Homo sapiens: one gene and its partner. The protein of the gene in region 2 purifies or fractionates together with the protein of the main gene of each other region. This does not show direct contact. Each region holds a gene or a part of one and is shown on either strand. Other genes may lie near its edges.

The links. Proteins that work in one complex are often made in the same cells at the same time.
Region 1: the proteins of TMEM207 (region 2) and ITLN1 purify together in Homo sapiens (co-immunoprecipitation; one study listed by IntAct). This does not show direct contact.

What each region holds. Positions count from the first base shown.
Region 1 is NC_000001.11:160,876,040-160,879,110, reverse strand, and holds the end of ITLN1 (intelectin-1 precursor), read left to right. Parts: intron 1-2,294; coding exon 2,295-2,447; 3' UTR 2,448-2,571; downstream 2,572-3,071. UniProt on the Homo sapiens protein: Lectin that specifically recognizes microbial carbohydrate chains in a calcium-dependent manner.
Region 2 is NC_000003.12:190,430,529-190,432,901, forward strand, and holds part of TMEM207 (transmembrane protein 207 precursor), read right to left. Parts: intron 1-2,373.

The DNA of each region.
Region 1 (3,071 bases), on a different chromosome or scaffold from region 2:
TTGAAGACCAAAATCAAGGGGTGAGGCTTCAAAAGAACCATTACTGGGTGTTCAGCCTTTGTGAGAAAACACTCAATCGCTTGGAGCTGGGGTGAGGCTTGTGTGCTGAAACATTGTGTAGAAGTCTTTAGAGCTGAGATTCCTTGAGAAACACAGGTGTTGTTTTCCTTCATCTGAGGTTTATATTTCAGAGAAAACCTGGACCTCCCCAACCCTAGCCATGGTTTGCCTAGATACACACTGCACTGGGGAGTTGCTGGGACAGTCCTGGACATCACCTTCTAGAAACCTCACTCAGGCCATCCTTTTTGTGGTTGAAATGTTAAGGCTCAGGAATCCTGAATGGTGGGATTGACAAATTCCAAAGATTTTAAATAGAATACCAGTTGTAATTAGTCCATTCTTTCACTGCTATAAAGAAATACTGGCCAGGCATGGTGGCTCCCGCCTGTAATCCCAGTATTTTGCGAGGCAAGGCAGGTGGATCTCTTGAGTTCAGGAGTTTGAGACCAGCCTGGGAAAAATGGCAAAACTTGTCTTTACAAAAAATACAAAAATTAGCCGAGTGTGGTGGTGCATGCCTGTGGTCTCAGCTACTTGGGAGGCTGAGGTGGGAGGATCTGCTTAAGCCTGGGAGGTGGAGGTTGCAGTGAGCCAAGATCACACCACTGCACTCCAACCTGGGTGACAGAGTGAGACCCTGTCTCAATAAAAAAAAAAAAAAAGAAAGAAAAAGAAATATCTGAGACTGGGTAATTTATAAAGAAACGAGGTTTAATTGGCTCATGGTTCTGCAGGCTGTACCGTAAGTATAGCGGCTTCGGCTTCTGGGAAAGCCTCAGGAAACTTCCAATCATGGCAGAAGGCAAAAAAGGAGTGAGGTGTCTCCCATGGCAGGAGCAGGAGCAAAGGCAGGGGAGGCGTTACACACTTTTTTTTTTTGAGACAGAGTTTTGCTCTTGTTGCCCAGGCTGAAGTGCAGTGGCACGATCTAGGCTCGCCACAACTTCTGCCTCTCAGGTTTAAGCGATTATCCTGCCTCAGCCTCCCAAGTAGCTGGGTTTACAGGCATAAGCCACCACACTGGGCTAATTTTGTAGTTTTAGTAGAGATGGGGTTTCTCCATGTTGGTCAGGCTGGTCTTGAACTCCTGACCTCAAGTGATCTACCCGCCTCAGCTTCCCATAGTGCTAGGATTACAGGCATGAACCTCCATGCCTGGCTGGTGCTGCATACTTTTAAATGTCCAGATCTCATGAGAAGTCACTCACTATCATGAGGACGGCATCAAGGAGCTGGTGGTAAAATCATTCATGTGAAACCACCCCCATGATCCAATCACCTCCCACAAGGCCCCACCCCCAACACTGGGGATTACAATTCGACATGAGATTTTGTGGGGACCCAGGTCCAAACCATGTCACCAGTTGAATACAGAGGATGGGCAAGGAAGTATAGAATAACATGGTTCTCATTTGGGTGAGGGAGTGTCATTTATGAAGTCAGAGTGTCTGGATGATGAATAGGTTCTGGGTCAATGAGGGATATAATTAACTCTATTTTGGTCATTTGGAGCTTGAGGTTCCTGTGTAGAGATCCAAGCTGGACTTTGAGGTCTTCAGCACAAGAAGCATCTCAACAGGAGATGGAGATTTTGGGGCCATCAGTGAATTTTTAGTAATTGAGGCCACAGTGGTCATGCAGTTTATAAGGGAGAGGGAGATAGGTCCTCCACTAGGGAGCAGCACTTAGAGGATTTATGAAAGAAGAGAACAGGCAGGGGCTCTGAGCATGAATATTCAGAAAAGTTGAAAGGAAGTCAAGACAATAATGTCACTAAAGCTAAAGGAAGAGAGTTTTTTTTTTTTTCTTTTGAGACAGGGTCTTACTCTGTCACCCAGGCTGCAGTACAATGGCGTGATCTAAGCTCACCGCAACCTCCACCTTCCAGGTTCAAGCAATTCTCCTGCCTCAGCCTCCTGAGTAGTGGGACTACAGGTGCTTGCCACCATACCTGGCTAATTTTTGTATTTTTTGTAGAGATGTGGTTTCACCATGTTGGCCAGGCTGGTCTCGAACCCCTGGCCTCAAGTGATCCACCCTCTTCGGCCTCCCAGACTGCTGGGATTACAGGTGTGAGCCAAGGAAGAGAGGTTTTTATGGGAAGAATAGATCAACACTGTCAATGGAGAGTCTGATGAGGACCAAAGAAATCACTGGATTCAGCTGTTAAGATGGCATTGGCCTCACTGGCAGATCTCTCATTACTGCCTCTTCCTCTCTTTGTTTCCCAGCACTGCATTGGTGGAGGAGGATACTTTCCAGAGGCCAGTCCCCAGCAGTGTGGAGATTTTTCTGGTTTTGATTGGAGTGGATATGGAACTCATGTTGGTTACAGCAGCAGCCGTGAGATAACTGAGGCAGCTGTGCTTCTATTCTATCGTTGAGAGTTTTGTGGGAGGGAACCCAGACCTCTCCTCCCAACCATGAGATCCCAAGGATGGAGAACAACTTACCCAGTAGCTAGAATGTTAATGGCAGAAGAGAAAACAATAAATCATATTGACTCAAGGCTTGGTGTTTCTGTGAATTCCTTTCCTGTAGGGGTGAAGCACTATAGGAAATTTCGAAAGCATGTGTATTGCTTTGGCTGATTGTACTTCAACTGCGTGTGTGCTTGGACTGTTAGGACTCGGGAATCCTGATAGAGAAACATGCCATCTCTACTTCCCTTTCAGATAGCCCTTAAAATAGCCAGAGGCATACAGGGCAAGGGGAAAGGAAGCATTTTATCCAAACCCTTCCTAACTCACCCACATGGACTGATCAATTTGTATCCTCAACCTGAAGACCCGAAAGGAGAAAAGCGTCCATTTTTTGGGGGGTGCCCCAAAGAAGAAGGAGATATACCCAATATCTATATCTAGTATGTTCTAACCTTAGTGACTGGGCGTTCTCCTTAGGGAAGAATGGGCTGGCATGTTGCGATGATGGTGACTCTCCTTGTGCAGTGGCTTAACCATTCCTGGGCTCCCATCTGCAGGTGCTCATTCAGAAGGAGACATGTGGCC
Region 2 (2,373 bases):
ATATATGTATAAATGCTTATATGTAAAGAATATGTATTCACCTGGATCTTTACTTACCTTTGAATGATTTTGACTGCTTTCTGCCAAAACAATAGCAACCATCAAAAATTCATCTTTAAAAAGAAACTAGTCCCGTGAACTAAATCGGGCCTCTGATTTTGTGTATTGAATTTATGAAACACAATCTTATTTATACACTTACATATTGTCTATGGCTGCTGTTGCACTACCATGGCAGAGGTGAGTAGTCCCCACCTAGACCATATATTTTGCAAAGCCAAAAATATTTTATACCTGTCTTTAATGGAAAAAGTTTGCTGACCTTCCTTAAAGGAGTAAGATTTGATGCCATTAGGAATATTCCAAAGAATATGCCACAATGATCAAAAGAATTCAAAGACTAGTTGCATATTAGGCATTAGTTGCTTCACTAGGATCCATACGGAGATTACTCAAAATGATTACTTTGAAGCAGATAATGTTAATTTAGAATAATGGATTTTCATACAGTTGTGTTTGTCTTATTTCTTATCTCACTGGTACCAGAGCAAAGACTAATAAGTCAAGTATGTAAAGGGTGGAGCTGTGTTTAGTATATATGTCTCACCTTCTGGTTTAGCACTTTTCTTAGAGTTATCTATTTAATTAAATAGTCTACTTTTGGGCTATTACATAATATTTCTTTACCTCAGTTTTCTCTTAGGCAATAAGGGTATAATACTCGTGTCTACCTCTATAAAAGCAAGGCTAAATGAGCATAAAGTACTTAAAACAAGGCCTGGCACAGGAATTATGCATCAAGGTTTACTATTATTATTACAATATGTCAAGAGCTGTACTAATGATAGGAACATGCATGCATCTACTTTTATTTACAATATTATTTTTCAATCCATCCTCTTTTCATAGTTAAATAATGATTTAAACATTATTATTATTAATTATAATATAGAAGTTATTAAATGAAAAGTATCATGGAGTTAGAGCCCTTTGCAGTTTATAAGTTTGGGTTGATGTCAGATAAGTCTGCGGGACTTGATCAATCAGAGTTAAAATTGGTAAAATACAGTTACCCTAGGAATTTCCTCCATTGTGAATACTTGTAATGAATGATGGCTATTTTCTTGGTGAACTGCCCCTAGTGTATTCAGTACAAAGTCAAAGGTAACTATCTTTCTGCCTAGAAATGGTCAACCAAACTGACTTGACACATCTATTATTTGTACTAGCTCCAATTTATTTGTACGATTGCCACTGTCTATATTGTGCTCCCAGTAATAGAGTCTTCACAGTTGCTTTCGTAGAAAACTCATTATCTTCTTCCTACAAATTTTGCTGTTGATCTTAAACTTGTTATTAAAACCACAAGGCATTTGGTAAACATAATTAAGCCAATGTGTTCAGGAAGTTTTGAAAACCAAATATGTGTTATATCAGTTTTCAATTTTTTTCAAAGCATGTTTACATATAATATCAAGTGATTGGATGCTGGGGAGGACAGGCATTTTTATCTTTTGACAAATTAAGAAGCTGAGAGAACTGAATTAAAAATGCCAGCAAAAATCCTATAGTTTTTACAGAACTGCTCTCTAAGATATCAGAGTTTACTGTTTAATTTTGTAAAACCAATACACTTACTGCTTAGTTTTTATAGCCAGAGTTGAGATTTCCTATGTTTTTAAGAATCACTCAAATAGACTTCACCTCTTTCTACATGTTCTTTCTACCTGTTTCTTCTCTTTCCTTTACCTCATTCCTTTCTCTTCTATGGGAGTGGCCAGAAGGACTGAATTTGAGTCACAGTTCTGCCATCTACTTACTATGTTGCTTAATCTCTAAGTGCCTTTGTTCCCTCATTGGTAGAGTGGTCAGAATGATAGTGAACCTTCATAGAGTGGTAAGGAAGAATAAATGAGATTAAGGATGTCAAGTGTTAGCACAGAGCATGGCTCCTGGGAAATGCTCAATGAATGAGTCATTACTATTATCATGTCTTTCCATGAAAATCTGTGAATGAAATACTTCCTTTTTTATTACTGAAAATAAGTCACAGAATATTTACACTTAGAACATGAAACATAGGGAAATGGCATTTCTGAAAAATCATAAAATAAAAGAATCCTGGGAGACTGGAGGGAGAAGAGAGCAGAGCCTGTAAGACCCTGCTTCTTGTTCACCTCTCTGCAGCCCTCCTATTTCTCCCCAGCTCAGAGCACTCATACATAATCACTGCTGGAATGCCAGTATTTCTATTTTCCCAGAAATAAGAAAGAGGGAAGATTATCCCTGAAACTGCAGAAGAAATGGGATCAGAGAGATTGTATAGTTGAAGGGCAGCATTATCAAGCGATCAGCCCCAGGGAGAAGCTAAGC